Linked DNA regions of Homo sapiens. The protein of the gene in region 1 interacts with the protein of each later gene in a biochemical or structural test. Each region holds a gene or a part of one and is shown in the gene's direction. Other genes may lie near its edges.

The links.
Region 2: the proteins of PRKAR1A (region 1) and AKAP10 form a complex in vitro, tested with the Homo sapiens proteins (one study listed by BioGRID).
Region 3: the proteins of PRKAR1A (region 1) and AKAP1 form a complex in vitro, tested with the Homo sapiens proteins (one study listed by BioGRID).
Region 4: of the proteins of PRKAR1A (region 1) and MAP1A, one has a biochemical effect on the other in vitro, tested with the Homo sapiens proteins (one study listed by BioGRID).

What each region holds. Positions count from the first base shown.
Region 1 is NC_000017.11:68,529,408-68,533,947, forward strand, and holds the end of PRKAR1A (cAMP-dependent protein kinase type I-alpha regulatory subunit), read left to right. Parts: intron 1-512; coding exon 513-594; intron 595-869; coding exon 870-1,042; 3' UTR 1,043-4,024; downstream 4,025-4,540. UniProt on the Homo sapiens protein: Regulatory subunit of the cAMP-dependent protein kinases involved in cAMP signaling in cells.
Region 2 is NC_000017.11:19,932,803-19,939,840, reverse strand, and holds part of AKAP10 (A-kinase anchor protein 10, mitochondrial isoform 1 precursor), read left to right. Parts: coding exon 1-128; exon of another isoform or gene 129-211; intron 212-3,410; coding exon 3,411-3,555; intron 3,556-7,038. UniProt on the Homo sapiens protein: Differentially targeted protein that binds to type I and II regulatory subunits of protein kinase A and anchors them to the mitochondria or the plasma membrane.
Region 3 is NC_000017.11:57,116,216-57,121,852, forward strand, and holds the end of AKAP1 (A-kinase anchor protein 1, mitochondrial precursor), read left to right. Parts: coding exon 1-46; intron 47-644; coding exon 645-712; intron 713-2,165; coding exon 2,166-2,239; intron 2,240-2,766; coding exon 2,767-2,829; intron 2,830-4,034; coding exon 4,035-4,109; 3' UTR 4,110-5,129; downstream 5,130-5,637.
Region 4 is NC_000015.10:43,520,574-43,527,611, forward strand, and holds part of MAP1A (microtubule-associated protein 1A), read left to right. Parts: intron 1-67; coding exon of another isoform or gene 68-150; intron 151-398; coding exon of another isoform or gene 399-539; intron 540-750; coding exon of another isoform or gene 751-900; coding exon 901-7,038. UniProt on the Homo sapiens protein: Structural protein involved in the filamentous cross-bridging between microtubules and other skeletal elements.

The sequences.
Region 1 (4,540 bases):
AGCAGATACTCTTGCTAAGCGGATCCAAGTGGCAGATTTCTATGAATGTGGCTCCATAGTTGCTAATTGATTTTATTTAAATCAGGGGTCAGGAGACTGTAAAGGGCCAGGTGGTAAGTAAGTTAAGCTTTGTGGACCATAGGGTTTCATTCGCAAAGTCTCAACTCTTGTCATAGTGCAAAAGCAGCCACAAATAATATGTAAATGAATGTATGTGGTATTTCAGTAAAGTTTGATTTGCGAAAGAGACAGTGAGCTTGGATTTAGCCCTTCATCTACAGTTTGCTAACCCAAGTGTGCACCCTTTAAGCACCTTAGCTTGATACGAAGAACCTCGCTAGCAGGAGATGCTGGTAAAATAGAAATTGAAGCTCATGTGGTGACTAACTTTAAAGTCATTTTTTATCATATGCACACATTTGCAAGGTAGTTAAAATTGCATAGGATGTTTAAGGTGCCACCCTGGGTTTGAGAGTGTGTGTTTGTTTAGCTTTTTGGTGATTTTATTATAGGGGTCAGCTGCTGTGCTACAACGTCGGTCAGAAAATGAAGAGTTTGTTGAAGTGGGAAGATTGGGGCCTTCTGATTATTTTGGTATGTATGAATTCCCTCACAATAAATACATGGTTTCTTTAAGTCACCTCTCAGTGAGATATTGTAGTCTTCCATAATTTTGTCTTCTCCTGAATTTTATTTTCTAACTGCAGTCTTTTTTGGCTCTGAGAGGGAAGGTGTGAGATTTTGATCTTTACTCATTTAATGAAATTACTGATTGTCTCATATCTATTGTCTTCTTTCTCAGAAGTGCACTGCTTTAAGGAAATGTTTTTCATAGAAGTTAGCCTGTTACCCATCTTTGCTTTCTCCAGGTGAAATTGCACTACTGATGAATCGTCCTCGTGCTGCCACAGTTGTTGCTCGTGGCCCCTTGAAGTGCGTTAAGCTGGACCGACCTAGATTTGAACGTGTTCTTGGCCCATGCTCAGACATCCTCAAACGAAACATCCAGCAGTACAACAGTTTTGTGTCACTGTCTGTCTGAAATCTGCCTCCTGTGCCTCCCTTTTCTCCTCTCCCCAATCCATGCTTCACTCATGCAAACTGCTTTATTTTCCCTACTTGCAGCGCCAAGTGGCCACTGGCATCGCAGCTTCCTGTCTGTTTATATATTGAAAGTTGCTTTTATTGCACCATTTTCAATTTGGAGCATTAACTAAATGCTCATACACAGTTAAATAAATAGAAAGAGTTCTATGGAGACTTTGCTGTTACTGCTTCTCTTTGTGCAGTGTTAGTATTCACCCTGGGCAGTGAGTGCCATGCTTTTTGGTGAGGGCAGATCCCAGCACCTATTGAATTACCATAGAGTAATGATGTAACAGTGCAAGATTTTTTTTTTAAGTGACATAATTGTCCAGTTATAAGCGTATTTAGACTGTGGCCATATATGCTGTATTTCTTTGTAGAATAAATGGTTTCTCATTAAACTCTAAAGATTAGGGAAAATGGATATAGAAAATCTTAGTATAGTAGAAAGACATCTGCCTGTAATTAAACTAGTTTAAGGGTGGAAAAATGCCCATTTTTGCTAATTATCAATGGGATATGATTGGTTCAGTTTTTTTTTTTCCAGAGTTGTTGTTTGCCAAGCTAATCTGCCTGGTTTTATTTATATCTTGTTATTAATGTTTCTTCTCCAATTCTGAAATACTTTTGAGTATGGCTATCTATACCTGCCTTTTAAGTTTGAAACTAACTCATAGATTGCAAATATTGGTTAGTATTTAACTACATCTGCCTCGGCTCACAAATTCCGATTAGACCTTTATCCAGCTAGTGCCAAATAATTGATCAGATGCTGAATTGAGAATAAGAATTTGAGGTCTACATTCTTGGTTGTTAATTTAGAGCGTTTGGTTAAAGTATGTCCTTCAGCTGACTCCAGTATAATCTCCTCTGCTCATTAAACTGATTCCAGGAGATTGGATTTGCTGTGACTAGATACAGATGGAGCAAATGTCCTAACAGAGAAATAGAGGTGATGCTGCTAAAGGGAGAAATGCCAGGCGGACAAAGTTCAGTGTCGGGAATTTTCCCCGTGACATTCACTGGGGCATGAGATTTTGGAAGAAGTTTTTTACTTTGGTTTAGTCTTTTTTTCCTTCCTTTTTATTCAGCTAGAATTTCTGGTGGGTTGATGGTAGGGTATAATGTGTCTGTGTTGCTTCAAATTGGTCTGAAAGGCTATCCTGCTGAAAGTCCTGCTTTCCTATCTAGCATTTATTTCTCTGGCAAACTTTTCTTTCTTTTCTTTTTTAAAGTAAACTTGTGTATTGAGTCTTAACTGTATTTCAGTATTTTCCAGCCTTATGTGTTACATTATTCCAATGATACCCAACAGTTTATTTTTATTATTTTTTTAAACAAAATTTCACAGTTCTGTAATGTAGGCACTTTTATTTTCATTGTGATTTATATATAAGGTAATGTAGGGTTATATTTGGGAGTGACTGCAAGCATTTTTCCATCTGTGTGCAACTAACTGACTCTGTTATTGATCCCTTCTCCTGCCCTTTCCCAGGTAATTTAAATTGGTCATGGTAGATTTTTTTCATAGATTTGAAAAACTTTTAGGTTGTTACCAAGTATGAAGTATAAATCTGGGGAAGAGGTTTTATTTACATTTTAGGGTGGGTAAGAAAGCCACCTTGTTACAAATTTTTTAATTTCCAAAATAATCTATATTAAATGAGGGTTTCTGATCTGTACTTTGTGTTTAGCTACCTTTTTATATTTAAAAAATTAAAAATGAAAATTACGTTCTTACAAGCTTAAAGCTTGATTTGATCTTTGTTTAAATGCCAAAATGTACTTAAATGAGTTACTTAGAATGCCATAAAATTGCAGTTTCATGTATGTATATAATCATGCTCATGTATATTTAGTTACGTATAATGCTTTCTGAGTGAGTTTTACTCTTAAATCATTTGGTTAAATCATTTGGCTTGCTGTTTACTCCCTTCTGTAGTTTTTAATTAAAAACTTTAAAGATAAGTCTACATTAAACAATGATCACATCTAAAGCTTTATCTTTGTGTAATCTAAGTATATGTGAGAAATCAGAATTGGCATAATTTGTCTTAGTTGATATTCAAGGCTTTAAAAGTCATTATTCCTGGGCTTGGTAAGTGAATTTATGAGATTTACTGCTCTAGAAAGTATAGATGGCCAAAGGACCGTTTTGTATTGCTTCCTGATTACCAGTCTGATTATACCATGTGTGCTAATATACTTTTTTTGTTATAGATTGTCTTAATGGTAGGTCAAGTAATAAAAAGAGATGAAATAATTTAAATTCTTAAATGAATCAGTTTTTCTTCCCTTTCTCCTTTCCGTCTTTCCTCTCTCTGTCCTTCCCCGAAAGTCTACTCGGGTGGGCAAAAATGAAAAGGGGGAAAGTGAATTATGGGATCGGTGTTTTGAAAGAGCAATGTTTATTTTCAGTGCTTTTCAGTTTGTCAAAGAGTGGATCTCAAAATCTTGCTTAAAGGGTAATTGAGATGTAGCAGATTTATTTACTTAGTCATGGAAAGAAAAAAATTCAGTCAAAAGCTAAAGATTTCCTTTTGATTGAAGACAGATTGGTTCTGTGGCCTTGGAACTTTCCCAGACTTAATGGGGAAACATCATTTCTAGATTAGCATACTCTTTGGTTTAAATTTAATATATACATTTAATGTTACTTAGGGATACTTTTATATTTTGCATATATAAAGCCTCATATATAAAGCCTTATTTCTGATGCTCTTAGATTTCTGAGGAGTGAGATGATTAAGTTGTATTCATTAGTGTATTGGTATTTCTTCACATCCAGTGAAATTGGAGATATGTTGTATGTTAGAAGAGCATTCTTTAAATTGTGTTGCTTTGAACATGTGTACCTTTTCTAGATTCAGTAATCCCTTCCCCCCGTCCTCTGGAGTATGAAACCTTTAGAGTCACAATAAAATGTAACTAAAGAAAATTTCTCTGGGTTGACAGTCCTGGTTATAGTTGAATTCTCTCTAAACAGTGGCCCAAGTAGACTCTTTTTTTTGTTTCTTTTATTTTTTAATGATTTAAATATTGACATTTAAAAATTGAAGTAGCATGTCAGTTTTCTTCATACTACTTTATCTCTAACCACAAATAATAGCTGAACCTTTTGTACTTATGTTAGGCCCTGGCAGTGTATGTTTAGATGGGCTAAGACAACATCAAGAAGCAATGGCTAGATAACCATTTAATTTGTCCCCAAAGGTACGTTTTTATCTGTCTATTTGTCTATTTATCGATCTGTCTATCTAAGATGGTCTCACTCTGTCACCCAGGCTAGAGTGAAGTGGCATGATCACTGCAGCCTCTCTGCTTCCCAGATTCAAGTGATTCTTGTACCTCAGCCTCTGGAATAGCTGGGACTACAGATGTGTGCCATCACACCCAGCTAGTTTTTTGTATTTTTAGTAGAGGTGGGGTTTTGCCATGTAGCCTAGGCTGGTCT
Region 2 (7,038 bases), about 49 Mb from region 1:
AAAGAGGATGCAGTGAATATCTTACAATTCTGGTTGGCAGCAGATAACTTCCAGTCTCAGCTTGCTGCCAAAAAGGGCCAATATGATGGACAGGAGGCACAGAATGATGCCATGATTTTATATGACAAGTGAGTTATATTGATAGATGGATTCAGCAGATACTTATTGAACATTTGATATGTTTTGTGGAAATAAAGATGAATAAACTCAGTCTCTGTTGTCAAGGAGCTCACAGGAGGCAGCATAAAAGCTGCTTTTATATGGTGTTTGTAAAGCTTTGGGGGTTCTTAGAACAAAAGTTTCTGCTGGGAAAGGGGAGGTGTATGTGGGGTAAACAGGATGGCAATGGTGGTGTTCAAGGAGTGTTTCCCAGAAGAGAGATTTTGTTTGGATCCCAAAGAAAGAAGGGAATTTTGCTACCCAGAGAAGGCAGAAAACAACATTCTAGGCAAAGGCATTGGCCCAGAAGCCATGGAAACGTAGGGGAAAGTGGCACTTTCAAGAAACTTGAGTTTAGATAATCAAAGGAGTGGGGAATAAATATGAGGATGCTGGTACTAATTGGAATAGATTGTAAGGGACCTTGAATGCCTATTTATGGGTATATTATACTTTCTGTATAAATCTGCTCAGGCACGTTGTTAATTAGTTTTTTATTAGTTTTCACTGAAAATGAGAGGATGGAAACATCATACAGTAAACAAAATTGAAAATATCTGGTCAGGCAGATGATGAGCTTGTGGCCAGCTCTGTAACGTATGGTATTCTTTTCATTTAACTTTTCTTACTCTGTAAAAAAAGTAATTCGTGGTCGGGCACGGTGGCTCACTCCTGTAATCACAACACTTTGAGAGGCAGAGGCAGGTGAATCGCTTGAGCCCAGGAATTTGAGACCAGCCTGGGCAACATGGCAAAACCCGCCTTTACTAAAAATACAAAAATTAGCTGAGCGTGATGGCGTGCGCCTGTTGTCCTAGCTACTTAGGGGCCTGAGGCAGAAGGATCACCTGAGCCTTGGGAGGTCGAGGCTGCAGTGAGCTGTGATCCACTGTACTCCACCCTGGGCAGGGCAGTAGAGTGAGACCCTGTCTCCAAAAAAAAAAAAAACAACAAAGGTAATTTGTTATTTGTATCCTTAAGCAAATGCTAAAGGGGTAACTTGGGGATAGAGAAAAGTCCACAGATGTTAGGGTTTGAAGACACTAATAGTATCTAGGCCAGTGGTTCCTGAACATTAGTCTGTGGGCTCTTGCTGGGCTGTCTGCATAGGAATCACCTGAGAGCTTATTAAAAATAGGTTTTCAGGCTGGTTGCGGTGGCTCACGCCTATAATCCCAGCACTTTGGGAGGCTGAGGCAGGCGGATTACTTGAGGTCAGGCGTTCAAGACCAGCCTGGCCAACATGGTAAAACCCCGTCTCTACTAAAAATACAAGAATTAGCCAGGCATGATGGCACACACCTGTAATCCCAGCTACTCAGGAGGCTGAGGAAGGAGAATTGCTCGAGCCCGGGAGGTGGAGGTTGCAGTGAGCGGAGATCATGCCACTGCACTCCAGGCTGGCTGACAGAGGGAGACTCTGTCTCAGAAAAAAAAAAAAAAATAGGTTTTCAGTCTGGGTACCGGTGGCTCACACCTGTAATCCCAGCACTTTGGGAGGCCAAGGCAGGCAGATCACTTGAGGTCAGGAGTTTGAGAACTGCCTGGCCAACATAGTGAAACCTTGTCTCTACTAGAAACTACAAAAAATTAACTGGGCATTTTGACGGGTGCCTATAATCCCAGCTACTAGGGAGGCTGAGGCAGGAGAATTGCTTGAACCCGGGAGGCAGAGGACTGCATCTCAAAAAAAAAAAAAAAAAAAAGGTTTCCAGTCCCCCTGTCTCAGAAATTCTGATTCTGCAGGTTTGAGGTGTGACCAGGAATCTTTATTTTTAGAAGACATACCAGATAATTCTGATAAATAGCCAGTTTAGGGATGTAGTCTAATTTTCCTATTTTGCAAGTAAGGAAAATAAGGCCCAGAGAGGTAATGATTTTCTCAAAGTCACAGAACAAGTTAGTGGCAGAATTTGGACTGGAATGCAGTTCTTAATGTTCTGTCCAGTGTTTATTCTGGTACAGTATGTTTGTAGAAGGTATTACGTAAGAAACATTGTTATATAGATGTTGAGATAGGAAGAGTTTACATTTAGAAATTTGGTCTAAAATGCCTGAACATTCAAGTCGTGGAGGAGTATTGACCAACTTACTCAATACAACATAGGAGATTCACATTTTGTTACAAAAATGCTGATTTAAAAGGAGAGTTTTCTTTTTTTTCTTCTTTTTTATTTTTTGAGATGGAGTCTTGCTCTGTCACCCAGGCTAGAGTGCAGTGACACGATCTCAGCTCACTGCAACCTCCACCTCCTGGGTTCAAGCGGTTCTCCTGCCTCAGCCTCCTGAGTAGCTGGGATTACAGGTGGGGGCCACCACGCCCAGCTAATTTTTGTATTTTTAGTAGAGACAGGGTTTCACCATGTTGGCCAGGCCGGTCTTGAACTCCTGACCTCAAGTGATCCACCCACCACTGCCTCCCAAAGTGCTGGGATTATAGGCGTGAGCCACTGTGCCCAGCCTGCTTGTTTTTGTATCATATATATGCATCATCATAATCATGCATTATCAACCTTTGTATTTCTGTCAGGACATAGAAACCATTAGAGTGCTTGGAAGAGAGCCTTTTTTTTTTTCTCGCATTTAATGCTTTTTTTGGTATTCATTTCATAATCAGCTTACCAAAACATTACCTGCATTATACCCCATCAAGGTAGAAATCTTTGTGTTATCAATATTGGTTACTCCCTTTCCACACCGAGTCATCAGTAAGTCCTGTTCTATCCAAATAGGTCATATGCATCTAGCTCACCCCTCAGTGCTGTTTTGTTTTGAATTTGTACATGTTTACTCCTGATGCCTTGTAGTTATGATGATGTGTTCTTATTTTATTCTGTGCATACAAGTTCTCAGCTCGCTTTTTAGGGAAAATGACCATGTCTTCCTTTCCTATAAATTCCTTTCTATCTATCAAGTCCTCAACAGAGAATAGGTACCCATAAATATGTGATTGTTAGTTTCTTTGCCTCAGTTGTAGTCTGATCCTTACAGCTTTTAAACAACAGTAGAGTTCACCGTCAAGAACTAAGGATGGTTGGCAGGCAGATAGAAAGGTAGCAAGTTGACCCAACTATCTCTGGGGAAGTGGGAACAAAGAAAGGTTACATCAGCACTGTCATCACATAGCTCTATAGTTCTAGGCCTGCAGGCTCAATCAAGTAGCCTTGTATAAGATTCTCTGGAGGAGGTGCTGAAAGTTGCTTATACTTGCTATGGAATTTGATTTTACTTCGGATATCTTTTTACCATAGGTACTTCTCCCTCCAAGCCACACATCCTCTTGGATTTGATGATGTTGTACGATTAGAAATTGAATCCAATATCTGCAGGGAAGGTGGGCCACTCCCCAACTGTTTCACAACTCCATTACGTCAGGCCTGGACAACCATGGAGAAGGTAACCCAGAACTTCAAACGTATCAAACTACAAGAAGTTTTATTGGTAGAACTCATAAAATATAAGGTGGGAAAACCAAGCAGAATAGCACAGTGGAAATTGAAGCAGTCCAGCAAAGTGATTAAGAGCAGAGGCCTTGAGTCTGGCCTGGTATGTACAGTCACGTGCCACATAACATTTTAGTCAACAGTGGACTGCGTGTACGATGGTCCTGTACGATTATAATGGATCAAAGCTGGTAGTGCAATAATAACAAAAGTTAGAAAAAATAAATTTTAATAAGTAAAAAAGAAAAAAGAAAAACTAAAAAGATAAAAGAATAACCAAGAACAAAACAAAAAAAATTATAATGGAGCTGAAAAATCTCTGTTGCCTCATATTTACTGTACTATACTTTTAATCATTATTTTAGAGTGCTCCTTCTACTTACTAAGAAAACAGTTAACTGTAAAACAGCTTCAGACAGGTCCTTCAGGAGGTTTCCAGAAGGAGGCATTGTTATCAAAGGAGATGACGGCTCCATGCGTGTTACTGCCCCTGAAGACCTTCCAGTGGGACAAGATGTGGAGGTGAAAGAAAGTGTTATTGATGATCCTGACCCTGTGTAGGCTTAGGCTAATGTGGGTGTTTGTCTTAGTTTTTAACAAACAAATTTAAAAAGAAAAAAAAAATTAAAAATAGAAAAAAGCTTATAAAATAAGGATATAATGAAAATATTTTTGTACAGCTGTATATGTTTGTGTTTTAAGCTGTTATGACAACAGAGTCAAAAAGCTAAAAAAAGTAAAACAGTTAAAAAGTTACAGTAAGCTAATTTATTATTAAAGAAAAAAATTTTAAATAAATTTAGTGTAGCCTAAGTGTACAGTGTAAGTCTACAGTAGTGTACAATAATGTGCTAGGCCTTCACATTCACTTACCACTCACTCGCTGACTCACCCAGAGCAACTTCCAGTCTTGCAAGCTCCATTCATGGTAAGTGCCCTATACAGATGTACCATTTTTTATCTTTTATACTGTATTTTTACTGTGCCTTTTCTGTATTTGTGTTTAAATACACAAATTCTTACCATTGCAATAGTGGCCTACGATATTCATTATAGTAACATGTGATACAGGTTTGTAGCCCAAAAGCAATAGGTTGTACCATATAGCCAAGGGGTGTAGTAGGCCATACCATCTAGGTTTGTATAAGTACACTCTGTGATGTTAGCACAATGGCAAGCAGCCTAACGGAAATTCTGTTTATTGATTGATTGATTGATTGATTGATTGAGACAGAGTTTCACTCCATTGTCCAGGCTGGAGTGCAGTTGCACAGTCTTGGCACACTGCAACTTCTGCCTCCCAGGTTCAACCAATTATCCTGCCTCATCCTCCCAAGTAGCTGGGATTACAGGCAGGCACCACCATACCTGGCTAATTTTTGTATTTTAGTAGAGACAGGGTTTCACCATTTTGGCCAGGCTGTTCTCGAACTCCTGACCTTAAGTGATCTGCCTGCTTTGGCCTCCGAAAGTGCTGGGATTACAGGCATGAGCTACCATGCCTGGGCAGTAACTGAAATTCTCTAATGCCATTTTCCTTATCTGTAAAGTGACGATAATATGCACGTTTACCTCAAAGTTACTTTGATGATTAAAGTAAGGTAATGTATATAAAATACATATTAACATAGTACCTGACACATGGTAAGCATCAAAAAATGTTAACTACTTTTATTACTATTATTATTACGTATTTTTAAATAATTAGAGAGCAGTATCAAAAATTAGCTGGGCGTAGTGGCATGCACCTATAGTTCCAGCTACTCAGGAGGCTGAAGCTGGAGGATTGCATGAGCCTGGGAATTAAAGGCTGCAGTGAGCCGTGTTCATGCCCCTGCACTCCAGCCTTGGTGACAGAGCAAGACCCTGTCTTGAACAATTAAAGAAGGCATTATGCCGCAACGTTAGCTTAGAAATGATCCACATATATCACCAGTAACTGTCAACAGGATTGGAACCCTAGTTTTGGGTATTATGATCACAAGGTATTATTAATAGCTTATTAATAATAAAGCGTTGGCTAGGCACGGCGACTCACATCTGTAATCCCAGCACTTTGGGAGGCCGAGGTGGGTGGATCACCTGAGGTCAGGAGTTTGAGACCAGCCTGACCAACATGGAGAAACCCCATCTCTACTAAAAATACAAAATTAGCCGGGCGTGGTGGTGCATGCCTGTAATCCCAGCTACTTAGGAGGCTGAGGCAGGAAAATCTCTTGAACCCGGGAGGCAGAGGTTGCAGTGAGCTGAGATCGCACCATTGCACTCCAGCCTGGGCAACAAGAGCAAAACTCCGTCTCAAAAATATAATTATAATAAATAAATAAAAGTAAAGTATTGATGTTTGTGAATGATTTATTCTTCTAATGAACTAGAGGAGATTTTTCCAGGAATTTCAGAGCCAGTGAGGTTATGTTGCTTGTATGTGTCATGTGTATCCAGGTGAAAAAACTTAATTAAACGCTATTATATAATACCATACATAAAAACTGAATTTTAGGAATACTGAAGAATGACATATAGAAGTCAAATCATTAAATAGCTAGTAGTAAACAGAATAGAGTGTCAGCTGTTACCCAATGATGATAATATTTTCACGATTAAAATTAAACCTTTTCTGATTTTAAAGGAAAAGTTCAGATCTGTATCATATAAAGAATGTAAATTTTCAGGGTAATAAAATTAAAATGCAGAGAGAAAAATGCAAAAATAGTTCTTACTAGATGTGTGTATGTAAGGAACTTAGACTAATTTTAAGAACACTGTCAAGACCCTGGTAGTTAGGTAGGAAAAAAGACATGAATGATTCATTCAACAAAAACTTTGAGTATTTCTGTGCTAGATGGTAGTGTTACAGTGGTAAACAAAATAAATGTGTTTCTGCTATCCTGGAGCTTAGTCTACAAAAAAGGTACATATTGGCCGGGCACGGTGGCTCACGCCTGTAATCCTAGCACTTTGGAAGATCGAGGCGGGTGGATCACCTGAGGTCAGGAGTTCAAGACCAGCTTGGCCAACATGGCGAAACCCCGTCTCTACTAAAAATACAAAAATTAACTGGGTGTGGTGGCGGACACCTGTAATCCCAGCTACTCGGGAGGCTGAGGCAGGAGAATCACTTGAACCTGGGAGACAGAGGTTCCAGTGAGTCGAGATCATGCCACTGCATTCCAGCCCGGGGGACAAAAGCGAAAATACGTCTCAAAAAAACAAAAACAAACAACAAAGGCACGTATTAAATACGAACATAAATATTTACAAATTATACTGAATAAGTTCTCATGTTTATTATTTGCTTGTCCAGTTACAAACTTTTCCTTCGTAGAATTAGAAATATAAATAATAAACATGAGAACTCATTCAGTATAATTAATAATTATTAAATGTAAATAAAAACATCTATGTACAATTAGGCATTTATTTAAGAATTATTTGA
Region 3 (5,637 bases), about 11 Mb from region 1:
ACGGCGGATATAAGAGGGTGAAAGTAGACGTGCTCCGGCAAATCAGGTGAGCGGAGATGCCTCAGGCAGGCCTACGCCCTGCTTGTTCTGGGATGCGTGATCTCTGCGTGGCTGGCTCAGTTGTGCCAGGGCTTGGGTGAGGGTTACTTCTTCCCTCCTGCTGCCTACTGTGTTTTAGCAGAGTCTGATAGAAACAAACTCGATTACTCGCTTAGCCAAACTGAGCTAGAAGGCCTGTATTGTGGAAGAATCCCCAGCATCATCCTTCAAAAGTGAAGCTGGGCCAGGCGTGGTGGCCTGCTGCAAATCCCAGCGCTTTGGGAGGGTCACTTGAGTGCAGGAGTTCAAGACCAGACCGGGCAGTATAGCGAGACCTCATCTCTACAACATCAACAAAAAAGGAAAAAAGTGAAGCAGGCTCCTTTTTAGGAATTTGTCATAGGAAGTCCCTCTGAGGTCAGGCTTGCAGCAGGGTCGGCTGGCTGTGTTTGGGTGTGCTGTGAGCCGTGGCCTCCTGCAAAGTACGAACCCTCTGCTTTGCTGCATCCCAGGTTATGGGCGTCACTGTACAAAGATGAATACTGGCTTGGAGTGGAGTCAGCCTTCATGTCCACATTAAACTTGTTCCTTTCTTGCCTTCCCAGGTCTGACTTTGTCACCCTGCCGTTTCAGGGAGCAGAAGTCCTTCTGGACAGTGTGATGCCCCTGTCAGGTAACAGCTGAGGCCTTTGGCTTGGGGGATTGTTGGGGACAGTTGTTGAGAGTAGGTCTTTCTCAGAGCCTCCGTTCTCACCTGGAGGATTTATGCTAACATAAGTTGCTACCACTCAAGAGTTTCTGACTGAATAGGTCTGGGCTTAGGCCCAGGAACTTACATTGCTATCAAGTTCCCAGGTGAGACCAGTGCTGCTGATCCTTTGAGATCCACTGCTCTAGACTGTACTCAGACCTCAGGCATCAAGGGGCTTCCAACAAAGGCACTTTCCAGATTATAGTCCAGACCCAGAGTCTTAGCCCCGGTGGTTGAGGGCGTGCTGGTCACTGATACTGCTCAGCCAGGCCATAGCTCCATAGGGCACAGTGGGGACACCCTATCTGGTGTCTTAGACTATGAAAGCATTGTCAGAGGGAAGAGGACTGGCAAAATCTTGGGTAAATGACTTAGCCTCAATTTTCACCCCAGAACATGGGAATGGTACCTGTCTTTGATGCTGGCTGTGAGAATTACATAAACCTAAGATCTGGTGTGTAGAGGGTGGCGAAATGGCAGCTGTTTATGGCTAGGAATTTTATATTTGTAGGTGATAGTTCATCCCATCCCACTCCCTCCCCAGGTTTGCCCCTTCTGATCTCCTTCTTGCTTGTCTTAAGCGATTTGCATGCGTTAGAAATACTACAGTCTAGCTGGAGTCGGCTTAGAGGGAGCACTGGGGCAAGATCTTTGTTTTGCTTCTTTTATTGCTGTTGCCCCTCCTTCCTCTCTGCTTCTGTCCATCTAAGCGATCTGTCCAGACCCAGCTGAAACTTTCTCCTTCGTAAGATTTTCCCGGATCTTCCTTGGTAAACCCCTGTCTCTCCCATCCTTGCCACTGCTTGCCTTGGGTATGGTGTTCTATGTAACTTTTGTAATCCAGCAAAGCTGAATGCTGCCGCAGCGCCTTGCCCACTCTGAGTGGCTGGCCTTATTGGGCTGTGTGGCCAACTGCCTGGGTTTGATTCCCACCTTCACCACTTGGGAGCTGGTTGACCTTCAGGAATCCACCTTTGCCTCAGTGTTCTCTCCTGTAAAGTGGGGATAGCACTTGGTGTTACTAATTTTGTGGAAGAACACATATGCTCTGCACTGCCAGCATCCGAGTTGGTGGGGGTGGGGGTGGTGCTGCTGCTGGTGGTATTGGTGGTGGTGTTAGTGGTGAAGTTTCTGTCCATCTGTTGTCTGTGCTGCACCAGTGGGCAACATGCAGTAGCGGCCCTTAGTTTATCCACTGGGAGTCATATGGAGGCCTAGGCTCTGTCTCTGACCTGGGTGGATCTCCCCAGTGCAGTTCTCAAGTTCCACAGCATCTGAAGCATTCTACTTGGAATGCACCTGAAACTTGTGTACATGACAAGGGTGCCTTGCCTCAGTGAGAGCCTAAATGCCGCTTTTCCTTTTCCTCCTGAAGACGATGACCAGTTTTCACCGGAAGCAGATGCCGCCATGAGCGAGATGACGGGGAATACAGCACTGCTTGCTCAGGTGTGTGGTTGGCAGGGGTGGGGGAGGCAGGCTGGCTGGGTTCTTGGGAACTGACCTTTCAATGCCTTCTTTCCTGTGGCTTGGCCCTGGATTGACCAGCAGTATTTAAGGAAAGGTGCATGAAGTAGCTAATACTTGATATTAGTCTGTTCTCACATTGCTGTAAAGAAATACCTGGGACTGAATAATCTATAAAGGAAAGAGGTGTAATTGACTCACAATTCTGCGGGCCTGGGGAGACCTCAGGAAACTTACAATCATGGCAGAAAGGGAAGAGGCACGTCTTACATGATGGGCAGGCAAGAGACAGTATGTGAAGGAGGAACTGTCAGATACTTATAAAACCATCAGATCTCATGAGAACTCACTATGACGAGAACAGCATGGGCACACCGCCTCATGATCCAATCACCTCCCACCAGGTCTCTCCCTCGACACATGGGGATTATGGAGATGACAATTCAAGATGATATTTGAGTGGGGACACAAAACCTAACCATATTATTCTTTCCACCCCCCTTCTTCAGGTGACAAGTTACAGTCCAACTGGTCTTCCTCTGATTCAGCTGTGGAGTGTGGTTGGAGATGAAGTAAGTTCTGCCCTTCTTTTCCTTCTGTGTTGCTGGCCCGAAGTAATGGATTGATTAGGAGCTGGTCCTGGGATTTGTTTCCTCTTGAGTTAATCAGAGGATATAACTGTAGACAAGCACCTCCTAGGGAACACTTTGGATGTCCTGATTGGCAGTGGTGATGTCAGTGTCCTCTAGTGGGTAGAGGCCAAGGATGCCACTAAACATCCCATAGTATTCAGGACAGCCCCCCACAGCAAATAATTATCCAACCGCAAATGTCAATAGCGCCAAGGTGGAGAAACCCTGTGCGAGACTTTCTGGGACCTTCTGTCTGTTGAGTTTTTCTGTCCTCTATCTTATGGTATGAAAGCTTAGATTTCTTCAGCATATTAAAAAGCCTATCCTGGCCAGGTACAGTGGCTCACCCCTGTAATCCCAGCACTTTGGGAGGCCGAGACGGGCAGATCACTTGAGGTCAGGAGTTTGAGACCAGCCTGGCCAACATGGCGAAACCCCCATCTCTACTAAAAATGCAAAAATCTGCTGGGTGTGGTGATGCACACCTGTGATCCCAGCTGCTTGGGAGGCTGAGGCAGGAGAATCACTTGAACCTGGGAGACGGAGGTTGCAGTGAACCAACATTGTGCCACTGCACTCCAGCCTGGGTGACAGAGCAAGACTCTGTCTCAAAAAACAAAAACAAAAACAAAAAAACCCTATCCTTATGCCACAGCAGCCAACAGAATACTTAAATAAATGTTCCTGTTGGCTAGAGCATAAGCCATGTCCCCCACCCTGTTACTCTTTTTTTTTTTTTTTTTTTTGAGACAGTCTTGCTCTTGTTATCCAGGCTGGAGTGCAGTGGCGTGATCTTGGCTCACTGTAACCTCCGCCTCCGGGGTTCAAGCGATTCTGCTTCAGCCTCAGTAACTGGGATTACAGGTGCCTGCCACCACACCTGGCTAATTTTTGTATGTTTAATAGAGACGGGGTTTCACCATGTTGGCCAGGCTGGTCTCGAACTCCTGACCTCAGGTGATCCACCTGCCTCAGCCTCCCAAAATGCTAGGATTACAGGCATGAGCCACTGCGTCTGGCCTACACTGTTACTCTCATACATCTGTTGCCTGCAGTGGCAACCGGGGAGGGGAGAACTCATGTTGGCTAGGGAGATGGCCCCAGGATGCCATGGACAAAAGCTTTAAGGGAACTTTCTTTTCTAGGTGGTGTTGATAAACCGGTCCCTGGTGGAGCGAGGCCTTGCCCAGTGGGTAGACAGCTACTACACAAGCCTTTGACCCCCATGCTGCTTCCTGAGAGTCTTTTTTTGCACTGTTGAAATTGGGCTTGGCACTCAAGTCAAAGATGAACATCGGAATAACAAACATTGTCCTCTCCAGAAAGTCCTTTCTTTCTCCATACTGTAGTCCTATTGAGAAGACATTTCGTCTCTGAGAAAAAAGGATGGAACTATGGGTTCTCTTCGCAAAGCCAAAGGATAGTGTTTAACAAGCCAGCTGGCTTATGCTGGTTCTCAGCTGTTTAAAAAAAAAAAAAAAAAGGAATAGAAACAGTTTCAACCAGATTGTCCTATTCCCCCTGTTCCATTCCCCTCTTCTTCCTTCTATCTCCTTCCCCGGCAAAAACCAAACAAACTGGCAGACAGGCCAGGGATGTATGTTGCTTGCTTGAGAGGGTTTCTTTTACTTCAAAATCTTTCTTCAGGGAGCAAGACATGAACTGACTAATTGGTATCCACTACTTGTACAGCTTACATAAATGAGTTGATGATATTTAACCAGTTTTTATAAACTTCATTTAGGTCTCTAAACACAGACTTTTTAAATTGCAACTGTAAATATGAAATGGTCATCACATCTGACCTTGGTCAGTGGGGAGGGGAACTGGTATCCTGCCAAGCCTGGTTGTAATTTGTAACCATTTTCTATTTGTGCAAACTCTGTAAATATGTGTTTAAACAAATGTAATATTTTGTACAAGATACACTGGAGAACAAAGGGAACTCAAGATTCTTCCAGCCACATGTCACCTGTAGGTAGAAGTAAACTCTGCAGTGCAGCTTCTGCTCTTGGCCCCTCTGGCCAGGGCCCCTGTGGCTTCCTGCACACTGGACAGGTGACTGTATGGTAGAGACTGTGATCTGGGAACTTTTTGCTGTACAAATCTGTTTAAAAAAAAAAAAAAGTAACTCATTGAATTAACTTGCAGTGGTGTGTTTGATTCTTTTTTAGACTGGCTTCAGCATTGTGCAGTTTAAAAATAAGTAAGTAACTTACATAAATCTTCAATTGTATGAACTGCAGCTTTGAGTCCATTTTTTTCCAGTGGTGAAGAATTGGCGGGGGGGGGGTGGTGAGTGTGGCGAGCTGGATCACAGGCCCCACACAACTGCCTCTGCAGGAGACCCATGGTTTTTTGAAGACAATTTGGCCAGAAATTTCTATCTGGCCTTTTCCTCTCTCTCCTTGTCCCACCAGGTGGCAGCCAAGCGTCCTCCGACTTCTTCACTGCATGTTAACTGGCCAGACTCAGTTTAAAGCACTGGCTTCCAAAACGGGTTGTGCCTTCTTTGGTTGTCATTCTTAATAGATTCGTGAAGTTATTTAATTTACTGTAGTGATAAGAATGATGTAAAAAATACATGTAAGTTATGGGATGAGATACTGCCTCAATTTAATAGCCCCTGCTCTTAAAGAAGGCTGGCCACTGCAGCCCAGGCCTACCCCAGTGCCCCGCCCCTGCCCCCTACGTTTGAGGCCTCTGGCTGCAGGGCTGTTGAGCTTGAGCTCTAGTTTTTAGAGAGCT
Region 4 (7,038 bases), on another chromosome or scaffold:
TCTTTCCTCTCCTGCACCACAATTTCTATACCTATTCTCAATATAAATTCCTACATCTCTCCCTCAGGCCAGAGGACCCTTTGCCACCAGAGTGAGATCCTAGAGACCATCATCCTGGTAAATCCCAGTGCAGACAGCATCAGCTCTGAGGTAAGGCCAGGGCCTGTGCCTTGCCAAACAGGCCTGGTGCAAGTGCTATACCCACCCTTGCCAGTGCTACCACTATTAGGCCAAGAATTCCTCTCTCTGCCATCTAAGCTGACGTATTGTCTCCAGCCCACTCTGGAGGTGTTATGAGGGACATAAGTTGGGAGCATGTTCTTGAGGTACTGAGGGGCCATTCATTGCCTTTCCCTGGATTTCCTATATCTGTGACCACTCCCCTTCTTCCATTCCAGGTTCATCATCTTCTTAGCAGCTCATCAGCTTATAAACTACTAATCTTGAGTGGGCAAAGTTTAGAGCCTGGGGGAGACCTCATCCTACAGAGTGGCACCTACTCATATGAAAACTTTGCCCAGGTCCTTCACAACCCCGAGGTAAGTTCCATGCCAGAGTGTCTGGGAGAAAGGGTAGCACTAGAGCTGTGGGAGGGATCTAAGGGAAAGTCTCATATTGCATGACCATGGGGGGCCCTGGCAGAAAGGTAAGAGTCCACCTTGGAAAGAGGTGAAGATTAGGGTACTGAATCTAAGTCAGACCAAAACAACTCTAGTGACCTGATCAGGTTTCTATCTCCTATTCTTCTAGATTTCCCAATTGCTCAGCAATAGAGACCCTGGGATACAGGCCTTCCTTACCGTGTCCTGCTTAGGGGAAGGTGATTGGAGCCACCTGGGATTATCCAGTTCCCAAGAGACCCTGCACCTCCGGCTAAACCCTGAGCCCACTCTGCCCACCATGGACGGCGTGGCTGAGTTCTCCGAGTATGTCTCTGAGACTGTGGACGTGCCATCCCCATTTGACCTACTAGAGCCCCCCACCTCAGGGGGCTTCCTCAAGCTCTCCAAGCCTTGTTGCTACATCTTCCCAGGTGGTCGTGGGGACTCTGCCCTCTTTGCTGTCAATGGTTTCAACATCCTGGTGGATGGTGGCTCTGATCGCAAGTCCTGTTTTTGGAAGCTGGTACGGCACTTGGACCGCATTGACTCGGTGCTACTCACACACATTGGGGCAGACAACCTGCCAGGCATCAATGGACTACTGCAGCGCAAAGTGGCAGAGCTAGAGGAGGAGCAGTCCCAGGGCTCTAGCAGTTACAGCGACTGGGTGAAGAACCTTATCTCTCCTGAGCTTGGAGTTGTCTTTTTCAACGTGCCTGAGAAGCTGCGGCTTCCTGATGCCTCCCGGAAAGCCAAGCGTAGCATTGAGGAGGCCTGCCTCACTCTGCAGCACTTAAACCGCCTGGGCATCCAGGCTGAGCCTCTATATCGTGTGGTCAGCAATACCATTGAGCCACTGACCCTCTTCCACAAAATGGGTGTGGGCCGGCTGGACATGTATGTCCTCAACCCTGTCAAGGACAGCAAGGAGATGCAGTTCCTCATGCAAAAGTGGGCAGGCAATAGTAAAGCCAAGACAGGCATCGTGCTGCCCAATGGGAAGGAGGCTGAGATCTCCGTGCCCTACCTTACCTCTATCACTGCTCTGGTGGTCTGGCTACCAGCCAATCCCACTGAGAAGATTGTGCGTGTGCTTTTTCCAGGAAATGCTCCCCAAAACAAGATCTTGGAGGGCCTAGAAAAGCTTCGGCATCTGGACTTCCTGCGTTACCCTGTGGCCACGCAGAAGGACCTGGCTTCTGGGGCTGTGCCTACCAACCTCAAGCCCAGCAAAATCAAACAGCGGGCTGATAGCAAGGAGAGCCTCAAAGCCACTACCAAGACGGCCGTGAGCAAGTTGGCCAAACGGGAGGAGGTGGTAGAAGAGGGAGCCAAGGAGGCACGTTCAGAGCTGGCCAAGGAGTTAGCCAAGACAGAGAAGAAGGCAAAAGAGTCATCTGAGAAGCCCCCAGAGAAGCCTGCCAAGCCTGAGAGGGTGAAGACAGAGTCAAGTGAGGCACTGAAGGCAGAGAAGCGAAAGCTGATCAAAGACAAGGTAGGGAAAAAGCACCTTAAAGAAAAGATATCAAAGCTGGAAGAAAAAAAAGACAAGGAGAAAAAAGAGATCAAAAAGGAGAGGAAAGAGCTCAAGAAGGATGAAGGAAGGAAGGAGGAGAAGAAGGATGCCAAGAAGGAGGAGAAGAGGAAAGATACCAAACCTGAGCTCAAGAAGATTTCCAAGCCAGACCTAAAGCCCTTTACTCCTGAGGTACGTAAGACCCTCTATAAAGCCAAGGTCCCTGGAAGAGTCAAAATAGACAGGAGCCGTGCTATCCGTGGGGAGAAGGAGCTGTCTTCTGAGCCCCAGACACCCCCAGCCCAGAAGGGAACTGTACCACTCCCAACCATCAGTGGGCACAGGGAGCTGGTCCTATCCTCACCAGAGGACCTCACACAGGACTTTGAGGAGATGAAGCGTGAGGAGAGGGCTTTGCTGGCTGAACAAAGGGACACAGGACTAGGAGATAAGCCATTCCCTCTAGACACTGCAGAGGAGGGACCCCCAAGTACAGCTATCCAGGGAACACCACCCTCTGTTCCAGGGCTGGGACAAGAAGAACATGTGATGAAGGAGAAAGAGCTTGTCCCAGAGGTCCCTGAGGAACAAGGCAGCAAGGACAGAGGCCTAGACTCTGGGGCTGAAACAGAGGAAGAGAAAGATACCTGGGAGGAAAAGAAGCAGAGGGAAGCAGAGAGGCTCCCAGACAGAACAGAAGCCAGAGAGGAAAGTGAACCTGAAGTAAAGGAGGATGTGATAGAAAAGGCTGAGTTAGAAGAAATGGAGGAGGTACACCCTTCAGATGAGGAGGAAGAGGACGCGACAAAAGCTGAGGGTTTTTACCAAAAACATATGCAGGAACCCTTGAAGGTAACTCCAAGGAGCCGGGAGGCTTTTGGGGGTCGGGAATTGGGACTCCAGGGCAAGGCCCCTGAGAAGGAGACCTCGTTATTCCTAAGCAGCCTGACCACACCTGCAGGAGCCACTGAGCATGTCTCTTACATCCAGGATGAGACAATCCCTGGCTACTCAGAGACTGAGCAGACCATCTCAGATGAGGAGATCCATGATGAGCCGGAGGAGCGCCCAGCTCCACCCAGATTTCATACAAGTACATATGACCTGCCCGGGCCTGAAGGTGCTGGCCCATTCGAAGCCAGCCAACCTGCCGATAGTGCTGTTCCTGCTACCTCTGGCAAAGTCTATGGAACGCCAGAGACTGAACTCACCTACCCCACTAACATAGTGGCTGCCCCTTTGGCTGAAGAGGAACATGTGTCCTCGGCCACTTCAATCACTGAGTGTGACAAACTTTCTTCCTTTGCCACATCAGTGGCTGAGGACCAATCTGTGGCCTCACTTACAGCTCCCCAGACAGAGGAGACAGGCAAGAGCTCCCTGCTGCTTGACACAGTCACAAGCATCCCTTCCTCCCGTACTGAAGCTACGCAGGGCTTGGACTATGTGCCATCAGCTGGTACCATCTCACCCACCTCCTCACTGGAAGAAGACAAGGGCTTCAAATCACCACCCTGTGAGGACTTCTCTGTGACTGGGGAGTCAGAGAAGAGAGGAGAGATCATAGGGAAAGGCTTGTCTGGAGAGAGAGCTGTGGAAGAGGAAGAGGAGGAGACAGCAAACGTAGAGATGTCTGAGAAACTTTGCAGTCAATATGGAACTCCAGTGTTTAGTGCCCCTGGGCATGCCCTACATCCAGGAGAACCAGCCCTTGGAGAAGCAGAGGAGCGGTGCCTTAGCCCAGATGACAGCACAGTGAAGATGGCTTCTCCTCCACCATCTGGCCCACCCAGTGCCACCCACACACCCTTTCATCAGTCCCCAGTGGAAGAAAAGTCTGAGCCCCAAGACTTTCAGGAGGCAGACTCCTGGGGAGACACTAAGCGCACACCAGGTGTGGGCAAAGAAGATGCTGCTGAGGAGACAGTCAAGCCAGGGCCTGAAGAGGGCACACTAGAGAAGGAAGAGAAAGTTCCTCCTCCCAGGAGCCCCCAGGCCCAGGAAGCACCTGTCAACATTGATGAGGGGCTTACAGGCTGTACCATTCAACTGTTGCCAGCACAGGATAAAGCAATAGTCTTTGAGATTATGGAGGCAGGAGAGCCCACAGGCCCAATTCTGGGAGCAGAAGCCCTTCCCGGAGGTTTGAGGACTTTACCCCAAGAACCTGGCAAACCTCAGAAAGATGAGGTGCTCAGATATCCTGACCGAAGCCTCTCTCCTGAAGATGCAGAATCCCTCTCTGTCCTCAGCGTGCCCTCCCCAGACACTGCCAACCAAGAGCCTACCCCCAAGTCTCCCTGTGGCCTGACAGAACAGTACCTACACAAAGACCGTTGGCCAGAGGTATCTCCAGAAGACACCCAGTCACTTTCTCTGTCAGAAGAGAGTCCCAGCAAGGAGACCTCCCTGGATGTCTCTTCTAAGCAGCTCTCTCCAGAAAGCCTTGGCACCCTCCAGTTTGGGGAACTAAACCTTGGGAAGGAAGAAATGGGGCATCTGATGCAGGCCGAGGATACCTCTCACCACACAGCTCCCATGTCTGTTCCAGAGCCCCATGCAGCCACAGCGTCACCTCCCACAGATGGGACAACTCGATACTCTGCACAGACAGACATCACAGATGACAGCCTTGACAGGAAGTCACCTGCCAGCTCATTCTCTCACTCTACACCTTCAGGAAATGGGAAGTACTTACCTGGGGCGATCACAAGCCCTGATGAACACATTCTGACACCTGATAGCTCCTTCTCCAAGAGTCCTGAGTCTTTGCCAGGCCCTGCCTTGGAGGACATTGCCATAAAGTGGGAAGATAAAGTTCCAGGGTTGAAAGACAGAACCTCAGAACAGAAGAAGGAACCTGAGCCAAAGGATGAAGTTTTACAGCAGAAAGACAAAACTCTGGAGCACAAGGAGGTGGTAGAGCCGAAGGATACAGCCATCTATCAGAAAGATGAGGCTCTGCATGTAAAGAATGAGGCTGTGAAACAGCAGGATAAGGCTTTAGAACAAAAGGGCAGAGACTTAGAGCAAAAAGACACAGCCCTAGAACAGAAGGACAAGGCCCTGGAACCAAAAGACAAAGACTTAGAAGAAAAAGACAAGGCCCTGGAACAGAAGGATAAGATTCCAGAAGAGAAAGACAAAGCCTTAGAACAAAAGGATACAGCCCTGGAACAGAAGGACAAGGCCCTGGAACCAAAAGATAAAGACTTGGAACAAAAGGACAGGGTCCTAGAACAGAAGGAGAAGATCCCAGAAGAGAAAGACAAAGCCTTAGATCAAAAAGTCAGAAGTGTTGAACATAAGGCTCCGGAGGACACGGTCGCTGAAATGAAGGACAGAGACCTAGAACAGACAGACAAAGCCCCTGAACAGAAACACCAGGCCCAGGAACAAAAGGATAAAGTCTCAGAAAAGAAGGATCAGGCCTTAGAACAAAAATACTGGGCTTTGGGACAGAAGGATGAAGCCCTGGAACAAAACATTCAGGCTCTGGAAGAGAACCACCAAACTCAGGAGCAGGAGAGCCTAGTGCAGGAGGATAAAACCAGGAAACCAAAGATGCTAGAGGAAAAATCCCCAGAAAAGGTCAAGGCCATGGAAGAGAAGTTAGAAGCTCTTCTGGAGAAGACCAAAGCTCTGGGCCTGGAAGAGAGCCTAGTGCAGGAGGGCAGGGCCAGAGAGCAGGAAGAAAAGTACTGGAGGGGGCAGGATGTGGTCCAGGAGTGGCAAGAAACATCTCCTACCAGAGAGGAGCCGGCTGGAGAACAGAAAGAGCTTGCCCCGGCATGGGAGGACACATCTCCTGAGCAGGACAATAGGTATTGGAGGGGCAGAGAGGATGTGGCCTTGGAACAGGACACATACTGGAGGGAGCTAAGCTGTGAGCGGAAGGTCTGGTTCCCTCACGAGCTGGATGGCCAGGGGGCCCGCCCACACTACACTGAGGAACGGGAAAGCACTTTCCTAGATGAGGGCCCAGATGATGAGCAAGAAGTACCCCTGCGGGAACACGCAACCCGGAGCCCCTGGGCCTCAGACTTCAAGGATTTCCAGGAATCCTCACCACAGAAGGGGCTAGAGGTGGAGCGCTGGCTTGCTGAATCACCAGTTGGGTTGCCACCAGAGGAAGAGGACAAACTGACCCGCTCTCCCTTTGAGATCATCTCCCCTCCAGCTTCCCCACCTGAGATGGTTGGACAAAGGGTTCCTTCAGCCCCAGGACAAGAGAGTCCTATCCCAGACCCTAAGCTCATGCCACACATGAAGAATGAACCCACTACTCCCTCATGGCTGGCTGACATCCCACCCTGGGTGCCCAAGGACAGACCCCTCCCCCCTGCACCCCTCTCCCCAGCTCCTGGTCCCCCCACACCTGCCCCGGAATCCCATACTCCTGCACCCTTCTCTTGGGGCACAGCCGAGTATGACAGTGTGGTGGCTGCAGTGCAGGAGGGGGCAGCTGAGTTGGAAGGTGGGCCATACTCCCCCCTGGGGAAGGACTACCGCAAGGCTGAAGGGGAAAGGGAAGAAGAAGGTAGGGCTGAGGCTCCTGACAAAAGCTCACACAGCTCAAAGGTACCAGAGGCCAGCAAAAGCCATGCCACCACGGAGCCTGAGCAGACTGAGCCGGAGCAGAGAGAGCCCACACCCTATCCTGATGAGAGAAGCTTTCAGTATGCAGACATCTATGAGCAGATGATGCTTACTGGGCTTGGCCCTGCATGCCCCACTAGAGAGCCTCCACTTGGAGCAGCTGGGGATTGGCCCCCATGCCTCTCAACCAAGGAGGCAGCTGCCGGCCGAAACACATCTGCAGAGAAGGAGCTTTCATCTCCTATCTCACCCAAGAGCCTCCAGTCTGACACTCCAACCTTCAGCTATGCAGCCCTGGCAGGACCCACTGTACCCCCAAGG